2 separate regions of the Homo sapiens genome follow, and region 1 is linked to region 2. A link means that fine-mapping ties the variant in region 2 to the expression of a gene that starts in the linked region. Tissue or cell type: tibial nerve. Region 2 holds a variant in brackets; the other region holds the start of a gene. All regions are shown on one strand. Distances are from middle to middle.

Evidence for each region. PIP is the estimated chance that this variant, and not a neighbour inherited with it, causes the effect.
Region 1: it holds the start of B4GALNT4, and the variant in region 2 is fine-mapped to the expression of B4GALNT4 in tibial nerve (GTEx, PIP above 0.99). The same link has a PIP of 0.9 or more in atrial appendage.

The regions. Positions count from the first base shown.
Region 1 is chr11:365,196-373,364 of GRCh38, reverse strand. B4GALNT4 (beta-1,4-N-acetyl-galactosaminyltransferase 4) reads right to left here and starts at 3,866. Exons shown (of 20, transcript NM_178537.5): 1 at 3,411-3,866; 2 at 1,153-1,256; 3 at 611-703; 4 at 418-513; 5 at 249-339; 6 at 74-174. The coding sequence starts at 3,561. RefSeq lists an enhancer at 4,795-5,333.
Region 2 is chr11:388,053-396,221 of GRCh38, reverse strand. PKP3 (plakophilin 3) reads right to left here and starts at 2,013. Exons shown (of 13, transcript NM_007183.4): 1 at 1,698-2,013. The coding sequence starts at 1,929. RefSeq lists an enhancer at 1,798-2,560. The variant G/C (reference allele first, on the strand shown) is at 4,772.

The DNA of each region.
Region 1 (8,169 bases), 23 kb after region 2:
CCAAGAGGCTGGTGGGCACAGGTGACTGAGCTGCAGGAGGCCCGGGACGACACCAGGGCTGGGGTGGGGGTACCTTGCCCACAAAGGCCACAAGCTGGGCAGCAGCAGGGCTCTCGTCCAGACTCAGCCAGAACTCCGAGTTGTCGTCTGAGGCCACAGAAAACTGGACGTCTCCTAGTCCACAAGACTAGGCTCAGGGGGGTGGAGCCTCACGGCACCCCTCCCCCGGGGCACCCTCACCCCCGTACCGTCCCTCGCCGGGTGGATGAAACCAAAAATACGGAGTCCATAGTTCTTCCACTTGGGGGACACGGCCAACTTCTTCACGGTGGTGCGCGTCTGGGGGGGCAGTGACTGTTGCTGTCGAAGCCCCCTGCGTGCCCTGCCCACCCGGCACCCCCCAACCCCGGCACTCACATGAGGGAACAGCGGGAAGTGCAGGTTCCTCCTCAGGTGGCCCACGGCGCCCCCACACCAGTCCTCAAACACGTGCAGGTTCACCTGCCCCTTGTACTGGGGATGGGGGGGCCTTACCTTCTGCACGGCCCGCCGCCCCCCCGCCCCAGCCCCCGCCCTGCCTCCCAGCCCATTACAGGCCGAGCCAGCTCACCTCCTCCCGCCATGGGGGTGTCTGATGGGTGAAGTTCAGTGGCAGCCTCCCAGCCCCCCCAGGAAACAGCATGTCTAGGTCCCGACCTTCGGGCTGCAGGAGAGAAAAGGCAACAGGGTCAGGGTTGGAAGGGCAGGGAGGAGGTCACACACACCAAGACAAACCTTCACAAAGACCCCTTCCAACATGTATCCACACAGCCCTAAATGCCCGTGAGCCCCAGCCATGCAAACCCTGACCTGTGGCACCTGGCACATACACTCAGACACCCTGGTCACTCTAGCCCAAGCAGATGCTTGGCCACCCCACACACTGACCGGCCGGCACATTCATGCACCTGCTGCAGCCCCCAGACACAGAGCTCCAGACAGGATGGCTGGTGCTGGAGCTCACACAGACAAGCTGTGCCGTGCCCCACATGTCCTGTGTCTCATGCCCCCTGCTGCGTCCTCCAGAATGGACAGGTTCTCAAGACACCAACACACAAGTGGCTTCGGGGTCTCGTCTCCGTGCACACGTGTTCTCCCCAGGGCTCTGCTCACCGCTTGCTCCTCTTCACGGCTCTCACTGGAGTCCTCAGCCCTCTGTGTGGATGGCGCAGCGTGGACCCCCCGGCCGTCGGTCTCACTGGTCAGCTTCTCACCATCTGCAGGTGGCACATGAGGCCTGTCTCGGGCCCAGGCTCTCTCCAAGGCCATTCTGCCTGCTGCTGGGTTCAGCTGGGCCAGGGACCCACATGGCCAGAGCAGGGCAGGCAGGCTGTGGTGTCTCTCACTAAAGCCTCTCCTTCTCATCTGCTTCCTCTGCCACCAGATGCCCCTCCCCCCAGCAAGGCAACTTCTTCTACACCCCACCTCTGGTGGGGCAGCCCAGGCTGAGCCTTCCAGCAGGCTCTTCCCAACCTCCAGCAGGTGTGAGGGAGGAAAGCCGGGTGGGCCAGCTGGCGTGTGTAGGCACCCACATGCACCTCCATCTGGCCATTCTTGTTGAGTGGCTCTGCCTCCAGGAAGACCCCAGGACTGCCCTGTGCCCTCAGCACTTTCTCTGTGTGCTGGAGTGTTCCACGTCTGCCTCCCTTACCAGAACTGAGAACTCAGGGTTAGTGCCAGGGACTGTAGTCTCTCCTGAAGGATTTGAGCTCTCAAAGTCTGGACTGAGGAACAGGCATGGATGCTGACGCCCAGGCATGGCCCTGGAGCAGAGGGTGGCCCTGGATTGAGTGTCCTTGGGTAGGAGGACCAGGAGGGGCAGAATTGGGGTGAAGAGAAGCATCCCTACAGATGCTCAGATCCCAGGGCGTGGAACCCCCTGGGGCTGCAGTGGGGATGTCTAGGTCCTCAGCTTAGGGAGGTCCAGGAAGTGGAGAGGGCTGGGGTGCAGAGCTGGCCTGCCCAGGCTTGTGGGGAGGCAGTAGAGATGTCCACAGGCAGATCTGGGAAGGGTCCCCCAGGGCTCCCCTGACTTGGGCCCCAGGTCCCCCGACAGAACAGTCTGCTCACTCGCCCTCTCCCTGGGCAGCTGTTGGGCTCCTCTGGTCCTGGCCCTAGCCTCAGAGGTAGCAAGTGTACAGGTGCCCTGGGGCGGAGCTGGCTTAGCCTCAAGGGGTCCTTGGAAGAGGGGTCCCTATGCCTCCGCCCCCTCCTGGTTGGGCTTAGACCCCTGCGCTGCTCAGAAAACCACAGAGGAGCCTGCAGAGGGGGCTGGTTTTGTTCTGTGTCACTGGGCCAGCTGTGGATCCTGCCCTGTCTGCTGATAGCTGGGGTGGGGCTTTTTAGGGATTCAGCAGTATCGGGGGTCTCTTGAGGGTGTGGAAGCTGTGAGGTATGTGGGTTGGGACAAGCCCCAGACCCTTGGCCTGTGTGGGTCCAGGCGTCCCGGTACAGGAAGAGAACACAGGGGCTTTGGCAGGTGGAGTGGCCCAGGAGTCCCCAGCCAGTATCATTGTTCTGCCCCCTCAGGACACCTGGCTCCCTGGAAAAGGCTCAGAGGCAGCCAGCTGGGGTCTCTCCTGGTCTGGGCATGGCACTAACCTCCCTCCTCCAGAGGGGGCATTCTGCCCCACCTTCTCCCCCAACCCCACCGCCAGGCTTTCATCTGCGCCTTCCTGTCTGGAATGCTCTTTCCCCCAAAGGTGTATGTCAAAGATCACCATCTCCAGGAGGCCCTACCCCGGCTGGCTCACCGTGACCCCATCTGCTTTGTTTGTGGGTTGGGGTTGGGAGAGTTTACGCCAGGCTCCCCAAGCTGGGCCCCATCCCTACGCATGGACCCCCACAACACTGGCACAGTTCACCGAAGGCGCCCCCGCCGGGAAGCGTCCCAGCTGCACCGGCCACTTCAGCAAGCCCCGGCCCGGGTCCCCAGCACACAGGGAAACTGAGGCCCTGCTAAGCGGGCAGGGGGTGGAGGCGAGGCCTGAGAAGGCCTCTTGGAAGCCTCAGCAGGGTCTAGGGGCAGAGACTTCCCCAGGAGCCCACCGTCAGCCCCTCACTACCGGATCCAAGCCAGATCCCAGAGTCAGGGACCCTCTCTGGGAGGGTCGCGCGCGTCACTGCCGACGTCATCGAGCGTCCGGGCCGAGCCGAACCGCGCCCCCTCCCCCCAAATCGCAGAGCGGAGAACAGCGGGCGGGGTCTCCGGGAGGGTCGGGCCCAGCCGAGACCTCTGTGCGGTGGGAGGCCCGGCCCGCGCCCCGGGGCCCCCGCCGCCCGCGCCGCCCGCGCCCCCCGCGCCGCCCGCGCCCCCCGCGCCCCCCGCGCCGCCCCCGCCCCCCGCGCCCCCCGCGCCCCCCGCGCCGTACCTCGCCCGTAGCCCAGGCGCTGGCGCAGCGCGCGTCCCTGGCGCACCAGGCCCAGGTGCACGTAGGTGAGCCACGCGGCGCAGCTCAGCAGCAGCAGCAGCAGCAGCAGCTTCATCTGCTTACGGATCTTCTTCACCGGGAGCCGCGGCATCGCGGCCGCCGCGCCCGCCCCAGGCCGCGCTCAGCGGCGCCGCTGCAGCCCCCGGCCCCCGCCCGCCCCGCGCCGCATCCCCGGCCCGCCCCGCCGCGCTCAGCGCCCGCGGCCCCGCATGGTCCTTTGTCCGCCGTGCGCGGCCACCGGGTGCGGCCGCGACCCCCCCAGGCCGCCCTCGGCCGCGGGCCCGGGGTGGGCGGCGGGGGCGGCTCCTCGCGGTGCCCCCCGCCCGGCCGCTCCCGGCTCCGCGCTCCTGGGGCGGCGGCGGGACCGAACAGCATCCACGGCTGCCACCGCGGATCGGGCCCCGGCCGCGCGCGCGGAACCAATCGGACCGAGCCAGGCCGCGGGGAGCCAATGGCGGCGCGCGGGGAGGGGTGCGGGGCGCGGGAAGGCGGGGCGGGGCGCGGGGTGCGGGGCGGAGGAGGCGGGGCGAGGGGAGGCGGGGCGGGGCGGGGGGTGCGGAGGGTGCGGGGCGGGGGGTGAGGGGTGCGGGACGGACAGGGATGCGGGGCGCGGGGCGCGCGTCCACCTGGGCCACGGAGCGCGGGGGCGCGGCACACAGACGCGGGGCTGGGAAGCGCTGGGGCTCGGGGACCGTGGGGGGCGGCGGGGGATGGGCACAGCCTGACTGTGGGGCGGGGCGGCCTCCCGAGAACAGTGACCCGAAGGACTGCAGGCGGACAACACGGAGGAGGGAGGGGAGGGACCCGGGGTCCTGGGGGGCGGGGAATGGGGGCGGGCGAGAGAGGCCGGGGGGCGGGGGGGCCCAAGCACCGGCTTCAGCCCAGGGGTGGGAGTCGTTGCGGGATCTCAGCCTGCAGGGCTGGGGCCGCAGGGGGCCGAGCTGTCTGGGCGGCAGGAGGGGCCTCAGCTGGTGGCCCCCGCCCCACCGAGCGCGGCCTGAGGCAGGTGACAGTGTCGTGCCTCTCACCGGGACCTTGTCCCACTTCGTGCCCTTTCTCACCTGGTCTGCACCAACCCCTGCCAGTCCCTCTGTCCCCCCAGTACTTCCCTTGTCCAGCTGCCAGCGTGACCCTACTCTTCTCCCTCTGTCTGCTCAGCTGTCTCTGGGTGTGTAGCAAACCGCCCAGCTTCAGTGCTGTCCAACAGCAGCGTTCCTGTGTTCCTGTGTCCTGTGGGTCAGGAACTCAGGGCACTCGGGGACAGCTCCTCTCTGCTCCTCGAGGTGCTGGCCTCCGGTGGGAAGACGTGAGTGGTGGGGCCGGCTCCGCGGGACAGGCTGGAGCCATCCAGAGACTTCTGCCCCAAGCCAGTGCACCCTCGGCAGGAATGGCTGGGCTCACCCCGGGTGGTTGGCCAGAGCGCCTGCAGGCTCAGCTGCCAGGGGCAGCCTCCCGGTCCAGCACACAGAGTGAAGCATCTTGGAGTCACCCCTCAGGTTTGCCACATGCCGCACGGCCACCCAAGTTCGTGGGTTGTGGGGACGTGGACCCCACCTCACAATGGAAGATTGCCCAGAAGTTGCCTTCTTAAGACCTCAACTCCTTCCCTCCTTCCCCTCCATCCTCCTCCCCTAACTTCTGAGCACAGAAGCAAGCTGGTTACATCCTGCTGTTCATACCGGCCCTTAAACAACACCCGGTCTCTCAAACCTTCCCCCACCCCATCAGCTCCTCATCTCCTGCCTCCTGCAGTCCACTTTTCATATTTCTGTTATCTGCATATTCATTAAAATATAGTGCCCCACCCCTTTTTGAGACAGGGTCTCACTGTGTCTCTGAGGCTAGAGTGCAGTGGTGCAATCTCAGCTCACAGCAGCCTTGACCTCCTGGGCTCAAGCGATCCTCCCACTTCAGGTTCTTGAGGAGCTGGGACTACAGGCATGCATCACCATGCCGGACTAATTTTTTGTATTTTTTTTTTTAACAGATTCAGGGTCTCACCATGTGTCCCGGGCTGGCGTTGAACTCCTGGGCTCAAGTGATCCTCCCGCCTTGGCCTCCCAAAGTGCTGGGATTCCAGGCGTGAGCCACTGTGCCCGGCCAGTGGTGCTCTTTTATGTGTCTCATTCTGTTTCTCCAAGTCCCATATTTTCTATGTGCATCTGTCTGGCTGTGCGTCTAATGCTTTCCCTCTTTCCACTGCATGGCACCCCATCCTAGGCACATTCATCCAGCCAGTGGACGCTACCTAGTATTCTAGTGTCCTGACGAGCCAGGGACTTAGGGGACACAGCAGTGAGCAAGACAGAAAAGGGCCCTCCTTTCATGGAGTTTACATGTTACTAGGCAGGGACAGACCAGTGAACGCATAGTCGCTTTGCTGGTGGTGAGTGACGTGAAGGAGATGAGCTGGGTGATGGAGGGAGGCCGGCTCCCGCTCCAGGGTCGCTCTCTGGGGAGGCAACGGCTGGCCTGACCCGTAAACAGGTTCTTAGAAGGCAAGTGTTGGCAATGTCGGGAGAGACGTGTTTGGGACACTTCATGGGTCCACAGTCAGAGGGTGTCCCCTGTGGATCCAAAGCATAGTAGGTACAATTGAGGGGCGAGCTGGGATCTGCCGGACGCAGATGCTCCATATGCTACCACATCCGTCTCGGCCCCTTCTGGAGAAGAACGGCCACCGCCTCACTTCGGTGTGACCCAGCCACAGAGGAGAAGGTTCTGGGAAATGGGTCTCCAGCTTAGAATAAGAGAACAACCTGGCCGGGCGCGGTGGCTCACGCCTGTAATCCCAGCACTTTGGGAGGCCGAGGCGGGCGGATCACGAGGTCAGGAGATCGAGACCATCCTGGCTAACACGGTGAAACCCTGTCTGTACTGAAAATACAAAAAATTAGCCGGGCGTGGCGGCGGGCGCCTGTAGTCCCAGCTACTCGGAGGCTGAGGCAGGAGAATGGCGTGAACCCGGGAGGCGGAGCTTGCAGTGAGCCGAGATCGCGCCACTGCACTCCAGCCTGGGTGACAGAGCGAGACTCGGTCTCAAAAAAAAAAAAGAGAGAACAACCTGGCAGGTTCCTCCTCTTGACAACTCAGCACAGACGCACACTTCTTTTAAAAAACACATTTAACTTCCAAATAAAGCAAAAAACAAAGTCATGCTTCTACGTAACATGATGCAAATATTCCAACCAGAAGGGACTGAACAAAAGGTTCGTGTCATGTTATCCACATTTGAGAAGACGATCCTCGTTCTTCTAGTTTCTCTAAGAGCGTTTAACACTTGACACTGCAAAGTGCATGTTGGGGGTTGGATGACACAAATACTGAGATGAAATGTAAAGTTAACTGTTGTTAACGCATTTTATGCAGCTAGGAGGGCAATGGAAGAGGAAAAAAGCAGGAAGAACGGATAATGTCAGTACAAGTGTGACTTGTGTGAGGATAAGAAGTACTCACTTCTACGGTCACCAGGTCGTGGCTGGTACAGTCTTTATGGCCACGCTCTTCCGTCACTCCTGCGTGGTCCCTTTGCCCTCTGCAAGCACCTCTGCTGGTCGTGGTTCACTGTCTGGTGGGGTGACCCAAACGTTCCTTCCCAAAAGGCCTATGCTGTTAGCAGTTTTGCCTTATGGGGTGGTTCTGGTTTTCCAGTGGTGTTTTCTGCAAGGCTTAGAGGAGCTACGTGATATTACAGACGATCTCCTGCCTCCCAAATTTCTCCCCCTTAGCCCCATTCTGTGATCAGGTTCCAAGTTCCCCTTGTTGGGCTCAGTCAGCCGGACCAGCACAGGGACCCTCTTCTTTGTCGACCCCCTGGTGTGAGGAACCGGCGTCCAGGTGGGCAGTCTCAGCTTCCTGCGTAACGTGTCCCCTGGTGGAAACACTCCAGGGCTTTCCCAGGACCGAGGGGATTCCTAGGACATGGAACTTTCCGTTTTAAACCTGGGAAAGTCGGCTGGGCGCGGTGGCTCACGCCTGTAATCTCAGCACTTTGGGACGCTGAGGCAGGTGGATTACCTGAGGTTGGAAGTTCGAGACCAGCCTAACCAACATGGAGAAACCCCGTCTCTACTAAAAATAAAAAATTAGCTGGGCATGGTGGTGCATGCCTGCAATCCCAGCTACTAGGAAGGCTGAGGCAGGAGAATTGCTTGAACCCAGGAGGCGGAGGTTGTGGTGAGCCGAGATCGTGCCATTGCACTCCAGCCTGGGCAACAAGAGCAAAACTGAGCCTCAAAAAAATAAAAAATAAAAAAATGAAAATAAGACCGGCAAAGTCTTAAGCAAACTGGGATGAGTTGGTCCCTGGGAATCTGAGGCCTCTAGACCAACAGCGTGCAACACTGCAGGGGGCAAAACTTTCACTTGTGGCTCACTGGGGATTAACGACAATGGGAAGAAGTTGGGGTTTCCACTCCTCCACGCCTGGACCAGTGAGCCCCGGCTTTGGGAAAAGCCAGAGATTAAGTGCTGATTCAGTGGATCCGCTGCATCCAGAGGACCCCAGATCCACAGCATTGTCACTCAGCTGGTGCCAAAACTGAGCCTCCCAAAGGCCATTCCATCAGGAACACGGCGAGATCTGTGGGTTCCAGGAGCACCGGCCGGTTGCTGTCCCCAGGACAATGGCGATGCCGCCATGAGGAGCACCCCGTGGGTGGACGAGGAGCTCTGAATGTGTGGGGTGGTGGTTTGGGCA
Region 2 (8,169 bases):
CTCCTTTTGAGCCCCTCCTGTGCCCAAACCTCATCTGTGCCCGGTCACAGGAGAGTGACACTGTCTCCCTGGACCAGTATGCCCTGTTGCAGTGCCCTGTCCCACCCGGCAGAGCCTGAGGCAGGGGCCACACCCACCCCGTCCAGCCACACACACGCCAAGGGCAGCTGCGTCAGCCCGACTCCACAGTGAGTGGACAGACAGGTGGGTGGGCAGAGGGTGGAGGGCGGAGGGTGGATGGAGGGACAGGCAGGAGGAGGATGGGAGGGCTGCTGTGACTGCTGGAAGGATGGACAGAGTGGTGGATGGAGGGGTGGGACAGCCGTCGACGACAGGGTCCCATGGTTGGATGGTGAGTGGGCAGAGGGATGGACTCGTGGATGGGTGCAGAGAGGATGGGCTGATGGTGGGGGCATGAGAAGGCCCACCAGAGCGACCTGGCTGAGGGGCTCAGGGTGGGGTGCAGGGAAAGGGGCCGTGGCCCTCCCACAACTCTGCCCAGAGCTGGATGCTCTGTGGGGGACACCCCCATGGCAGAGGCCCCAGGTTCACCCTGGTTAATGGGGCTTCTGGGCCGGGGCTATTAACCCTCTGACGCTCGTGAGGCCCAGCCCGGAGTGGGGGCACGCCCCAGCCTGGGGACCTCACCCCCACCCCCCAATTATAATCCACCTCCCTCTAATTGGCAGGGCAGCCAGGGTGGTAATTAACCCTTCCCTCACCGTCCTCCACCCCATGACCCCTGGGCACCCGACTTGGTCACCAGCAAGGCTGAGGCCCCTGGAGGGAGGACCCCACAGTCCAGGCCGCCGGGCCGGCCCCTCCGCTGGGCGACCTTCACTTCCCCCTGGCCAGTGGCTGGAGGCCAGTCCTGGGGAAGGCCCCTCTAAACACCAAGTGGACCATGATGAACTGGCATCTGGGTCCCTGGCATTCTGGGAGGTCCATCTTACTGTCTAACCTTAATCCCTGTTGCTGTAGCCTGGGAAGGAGGAAATGGCGTTCCTAGAACCACTGCCTTCAACTCACAGCGTCTGTGCTCCTGTCACTCACACTCACACGCATGCACACACACTCGCGTGAGTGGGGCCAGGATTCCGCCACAGGTGGGTCTGGCTGGCACCGAGGGGTGCTCCTCCACCTGCTGTTCCCACAGAGAAATCTAGGTCACTCCAGCCGGGCCCTCCCCTCTAATTCCTCAGGGAGCCCCTGGTCCAGACAGGCCTGGCTTTCCTCCAGGACTTCCAGCACCCCCACACCTCTCCCCGCTTTCCCGTTCTGCTCATTCCCGTGAGGTATGGGAGGAGCGTGGGTGTCTGGGTGTCCCTGAGACCCTATGTGAGTCTGTGCTACCGGGGCCAGGCGCGTGCGTGTTCCGGGTTTGCCGACCGAGTGGCCTGGCCCGCCTGCCATGTGCCAACCTTCCCTGTCATCCCCCACAGGGATGGCTCCAGGACTCCAGGCACAGGTGGGGCCTGGCCAGGCTCAGTCTTTGGAGGACCCCGGGGTCCCTGCTTGGACAGGGCAGCCCCACCCATGGCTTCTCCCCACGCCCCTGGGGCGGGGTGTGTGACTCAGTGTGAGGCCTGGTGAGTCAGGAGCCGGCCTCACTGCGGCCTCTGCCCTCACACTATCACGTCCGCCCGCAGCCACCTCTCCCCGCCACCGCCATCCCCGCCGCTGTCCCCACCGCCTACCTCTGGCAGTCTCGGCCTCAGGCTCGGGCTCAGCGGCCCCGTTGTGCCGCGGCTGCTGTCCCAGCTGCAAGAGGCGGGCGCGGACCTGCTCCTGGACGCGGGCTGCCCGCAGCCGCTCGGCCTCCGGCCCCTCGGCGCCCCGGCGGTCCAGCTGCAGGTCAGAGGGCAGCGCCAGGGAGCACACGCCGGCCTCAGGCTGCAGGGCCGACAGCAGGAAGTTACCGTCCTGCATGGCGGCAGGTCCACCGGGCCTGGGCCTGGCGGCCGCCTCCAAACCCAACTATCTTCACGTCCTGTCCCTCGAGGCCCTCTCCCTGAAGTCCCCGCCCAGCCAGCCTCACCCAGAGCCGCCTGAAGACAGACGCCTGCCCAGCCCTGAGCGCAGCTGGGGGCGGGGACACCTGGCCAGGTGGGAGGGAGGGGCCGCCGCCTGCTTAAGGTGGAATTTGGGCGGAAGAACAGGCCCTGCATGGCCCCAGGTCCCAGCCTGGCCTCCCGCCTCCTTTTCTCCCATCCCACAACAGGGCCACGGGGACCTGGGTCCTTCTTGTTCTCAGCCTGTAAAGGCCAGACCGGGCCCTTTGTCGTGGGGCTGGGACAGAGGGGCCCTCTGTGTCCTGAGTGTCAGGGAAGGGCAGGGGGCCTGCGGGGGGCCTATGTCCTGCCACCCCCAGCATGAAGGGGAGGGTGCCCCAGTCCCTGGGGGTCTAGGGCCCTAGGTAGCTCCAAGAATCAGCCAGCCTCCATGGTAGCCCAGCCTTCCTGGTGAGGTGGGGATGAGGCCTAGGAAGGGTTGGCAGGAGACACTGTCGGGAGTCAGGGGTCAGTGCCAGGGATCAGGACAAAGGCTGGAGGGACAGAGCTTTAGGGTCCAACGGGACTCCATGGAGGCCCTGGCCCTGGTCCTTGGAATCCAGCGAGCCCCCTCCGCACCAGGAAGCATGTGGATGGACCGGCCCTCCCCCGAAGCCTGCAGACCCTGGAACTCACCCCCAGGACCCCCTCACCCCCTACAGAGGCCTCCAAAACCCTCTCTGGCTTCTGGGACCCTGGCACCACTGCTCCTGCACCCCAGGCCCTGGGGTGGGAGGCCGTTCCCAGCACATGAGTCAGGGTGCAGGGGGGCGGGGCCGCCCCAGGGGGTTGACTCAGAGGGCCTGCACTCCTGTCAGCGCATGTCAGGCTGGGGCAGGAGCGGGTGTGCAGGGAAGAACCAGGGGTCTGGAAGAGCAGAGGCCTGGATGGAGAGGGAGCGAGGGTGGGGGGCCCCTGGTGGGGGTGGGGTAGTGGGGGGCCCCTGGTGGGGGGGCCCTGGACCAAGCAGGGCTTGTGCCCAGAAGGTCTCCTTCTAGCACCACAGCCAGCAAATGGGCTCTGAGGCCCTCTAGCCTCTGGGACAAGCCCCTGGTAGATGGGGGTGGGGATAAGCCTAGGAGGGCTGGGGGTGGGAGCTGAACATCTATGACAACCTCTGGGCTTCTCTCACGAGCTCATCGGACAGCCTCTGCTTCTCCCTGGACCCTGGACCCTGGCTCTGGGCTCTCCTCCAGGGCAGACCCTTGCCCCCTAGCTCCGTCCCTGGAAGATTTTTGCCTTAATGGGGCTGGGGCAGGGGTCTGGCGTGAGGGCCGGGTCAGGGTTAGGAGGCAGCATTAAGGGTGAGGTCAGTTCTGAGGGGAGGAAGCTGGAGAGTAGGAGTCGGAGGTCAGCGTGGGGGGTTAAAGGGGGAGGGGAAGGTCCACTGAAAGGATGGGTGAGGCCCGGGCTGGGGCCACCAGGTGGGGTCGGGGTGGTGGGGAAGGGGTGGGAGACCTACCCGGCTCGTGGTCCGGATCCCGCCAGCCTCCCAGCTCATCCCAGAGGCCACTGCTGACGGCCGAGGTGTCCAGGACTCCATCCCTGGCCCGGCGCGTGCGGGGCAGCCTCTGCGGCGGGGACAGGACTGTGGGGGCCTCGGAGGGCGGGGTGGGAACGCCCAGCTCATCGGACTGGCTGATTCCCTGGGAGACAGGTTTCGTGTGGAAAAATCCTGGGAGACAAGTTTGTGCGGCGCAGAGCGGGCCTGGAGGTATGTGCCTGGCATGGGCTGGGTCCCGCCCTGCACCCAGGTCCACCCCAGGCCCACCTGGGGCCCTGCAGGGGCCAGGCTGGGCGGCATGAGGGGGAAGCCAGCCTGGAGGGCCTCTGCAGCCCAGTCAGGCCGAAGGGCTCACAAGAGGACTCAGTGAAGGGGCTTCCGTGCGGCTGGAGCTATGATGGGAACGCCGGTACCCCGCGGCCTGCAGGGCCCCCAGGGCCGACTCTGCCCACCTTCCCTCCTCCCCTTGGCAGAGAGGGCTGTGGGTGCCCCCCCCCAGAGCTGCGGCGCCTCCCTGAGGATGCGTGGTGCCCGCCAGGCACAGTTTTGGCAAAGCCAGGAATCTGGGGTGCACCTTCCCTCACTGCGGCCGGGCCAGACGGATGGCGATGCCTGCTAGGCCACCGCTGCAGCTTCCAGCTCCAGGCTCGGCGGAGTCTCATCTGATCCCTGTGACCAGCCCTGAGGGTCGCACTCTCCCTGGAGCCAGCTCCTGACACAGGAGCCCTGGAGGGGGGCTTGACGGTAGGCTTCCTGGAGGAAGCGGTTGTCTGTGGGGCCCGGAATCTGCACGGAGCCTCGGGCCGCTTGGGTGCACAATCAGGTTGAGAGCCTGGAACCTGAGGGCCTCGAAGGGTGAGTGAGCGCTGCTCTTAGATGGGTCCTGGGTGGGGTGTGGCCTGTCAGTCACCTCCCAAGAGGCGGTGGGAGAGGGCGCAGGAGGGCTTCGGGGCATGGTGGGCTCAGCGTGGGGGGCACGGGAGGCGCTCACAGAGAAGGTCGGCTGGGCCCAGGTCGTGGGCAGAGCTGCCAGGTGCGTGCCCGGAGTTGTGGGAGGGCACAGAAGACAAACCTCCAGGGCAGAGCCTGCGTGGGTGGAGGGGGTTGGGGTGGTCGTCTTAAGGAGCAGAAGGGGGAGGATCTGGGGAGAAAGGTGTGAGGACGTTGGAAGCAAAATATAGTCAAAGCCGAATTCAGGAGTGAGCCGGTGCACAGA[G/C]AGGCTTGGGAGGCTGCCTCAGGTCCCACCGCCTGCAGGGGCGGGGTTCGGAGTGCATTAGGGGAGCCCCTTGGTGGTTGATGGACCCGGCGTGGGGGCACAGCTCACCCAGAGGCAAGCGTCCTGGCGCTTCCTGTTGGCGCCCACGCTTGCAAACCTTCTGACTTGGGCTCCAGCCAAGTCCAGCCCCTCCACGGAGCCTGCCCGGCTGCCCATGGGCACCACCCCTCACCTTGTGGAGTGTGGCCCCTGCCCCGCGCCTGTGGCTGGGGCAGCTCTGAGGTCTCTGGCCTTGGTCCTTGGCATGGAAAGTAGCTGAGGGGTATGGCCCCTGTAGGCTCTTGGGGGGGACACCTTTCATCTGCACACACCCCGTCCACTGCCGGCCTGTTGGTCAGTCTGTCCATCTGTCCGTCCACTACTTGTTCGTTCATCAGACGAGTCCCGGGCTCTTGCTATGCCCCCGGCGCTCCTCTGGGGAAGGGGGCGTCTGTCTGAGGCAGGCGGGGCATCTCCCGGGGGTTCTCCTGGGGTCTGGCCTCAGGACCCCGGCGCTCCTCTGGGGAAGGGGGCGTCTGTCTGAGGCAGGCGGGGCATCTCCCGGGGGTTCTCCTGGGGTCTGGCCTCAGGACCCCGGCGCTCCTCTGGGGAAGGGGGCGTCTGTCTGAGGCAGGCGGGGCATCTCCCGGGGGTTCTCCTGGGGTCTGGCCTCAGGACCCCGGCGCTCCTCTGGGGAAGGGGGCGTCTGTCTGAGGCAGGCGGGGCATCTCCCGGGGGTTCTCCTGGGGTCTGGCCTCAGGACCCCGGCGCTCCTCTGGGGAAGGGGGCGTCTGTCTGAGGCAGGCGGGGCATCTCCCGGGGGTTCTCCTGGGGTCTGGCCTCAGGACCCCGGCGCTCCTCTGGGGAAGGGGGCGTCTGTCTGAGGCAGGCGGGGCATCTCCCGGGGGTTCTCCTGGGGTCTGGCCTCAGGACGGTGTGTGGACCCATTCAGTTAGCCCCAAGTGTTCCTCACCAAATTGCAGCTGCTAACAGGTGGCGGCCGCTCCTGTTGCTTTCCTGTTATAAACAGGTGGCGCTGTGGGGCCAGGTCCTCCTCAAACAAGGCGGAGGAGGGAAGTCCTGGGAATCGGGGGCCTGGCCTAAGAAGGTGCCTTCTGAAAGGAAAAAAGCTAACCCCTCCATGGAGAGGTCCCTGTATTCACAAGACTGTGTTGATTCCTGACATGGTGGAGGAAGGAGGCCTGAGATGCCACTCACAGTTGTGCCAAGAGATGGGGAGGGGGGCCCAGATTGGAGAGGAGAACTCTGGAGTCCAGGACGAGGTCCATCCTCCTTCCCTTGACCCCTACAATCCCTGGGGTTCCTGGATGGCAATGGTGGTCTGGACGACTGTAGCTGGGGAGAGGAGGCTGGGGACCCATCAGTCCTGCTGTACCATTTGGGAGACTGGCCCGAGGTCCGGCAACCCACGTCTCCAGGGATGGTCTGTCCTCCAGCGGTCCCCTGTGGGCGGAGGATGACCCAGGTGCCCAGGCAAGAGACTGAAGGCACAAACTGTTTCAGTATAATAAAGAAAATAGAATAAGAATAGTCATAATACAAATTAGATATAGAGATGCTCATGGACAATTATCAATCATTATTATAAACATTATTAGTCATTAGCTTTTAATATTACTCTTTGTTCCATTACTATATAACCTAGGAATAAGCGGTGGGTATAGGGTCAGGTGCTGAAGGGACGTTGTGAGAAGTGACCTAGAAGGCAAGAGGTGAGCCCTCTGTCACGCCAACATAAGGGCCGCTTGAGGGCTCCTTGGTCAAGCGGTAACGCGAGTGCCTGGGAAGGCACCCGTTCCTTAGCCGACCGCGAAAGGGAGTCTCCTTTCCTTGGAGAGGTCGGGGAACACTCTGCTCCACCAGCTTCTTGTGGGAGGCTGGATATTCTCCAGGCCTGGCCCGCAGTCATCCGGAGGCCTAACCCCCTCCCTGTGGTGCTTGAATGATCACACTCCTTGTCCACTTTCATGCTCCTCCCGTACTCCTGGTTCCTCTTTGAAGTTCGTAGTAGATAGCGGTAGAAGAAATAGTGAAAGTCTTAAAGTCTTTGATCGTTCTTATAACTGCATAGAAGACAACACTGATGTATGCTGCCTTTCCTCTCTACTTCGGCTACCTAAGAGGGAAGGGTCACCGTAAGGTGACTTGCTTCACCTTATCACTTAGAAGATTCACCCTCCTTATCCTGCCCCCTTGTCTTGTATGCAATAAATATCAGCGCGCCCAGCCGTTCAGGGCACTACTGGTCTCCGCGTCTTGATGGTAGTGGTCCCCCAGGCCCAGCTGCTTTCTCTTTATCTCTTTGTCTTGTGCCTTTATTTATTACAATCTCTGGTCTCCGCACATGGGGAGAACACCCACTAAGCCCCGTAGGGCTGGACCCTACAGTCCCCAAGGCAAACTGGACAGGGTCAAGGTGGCCTCCCTGCACTGTCTGGAAAGCCCCTCCTGAAGGACCCTCCTCCCTGCACTGTCTGGAAAGCCCCTCCTGAAGGACCCTCCTCCCAGGACTGTCTGGAAAGCCTCCTGAAGGACCCTCCTCCCTGCACTGTGTGGAAACCCTCCTGAAGGACCCTCCTCCCTGCACTGTGTGGAAACCCTCCTGAAGGACCCTCCTCCCTGCACTGTGTGGAAACCCTCATGAAGGACCCTCCTCCCTGCACTGTCTGGAAACCCTCCTGTGGGGCCCTAGCCCAACACATTTGCAGCAGTCACAGGTGTATCTAGGGATCCTGGGGTCCATGAGCCCACAGGGCAGCTGTTAAGAGCCTTTGCCTTCTTCCTATATCTCCTCTCTCTTTTCTGGACTTCCTCCCGGTTCCCACTGGAAAAAACTGAGGTGGCCCCTCCCAGGATGCCCCCAAAGTACCATCTGGTCCCACAGCCCATTCCCGCATCCTCCTTCTGACATCAGGGGCCGCCTGTGCAATGAACTCATCTCCTCATCCCCTAGGACCAGCCGTTCATTGACTGAGTCAGGAGACAGAGAGGCACACTTCACCAAGGCCCCTGCCATCCCCCAGGAAGGCAGTGGGGCCAATCCCTGCTCTACCATGGACAGCCTGGTGCAATCAAGAGGCCCAGCCCCTTTCTCTCATAAGCCCTCCAGCCAAGTGCAATGAGAAGCCCAGTCCCATTCCCTCACAAGCCCTCCAGTATCACATCTGAAAGTGTTTCATCCTCCATTCTCCCATTTTATCACTGGGGTCCCATTTAGGGTCCTCCAATGGTACTGCTATTCATCCAATTGGATAAAGCTTCTCTTCTTCCCTGGCCCTATATAAGATATACAGCTCATCCCCCAAATTCTCTGCCGCTTGCGGGGTGGCCTGCTTTTC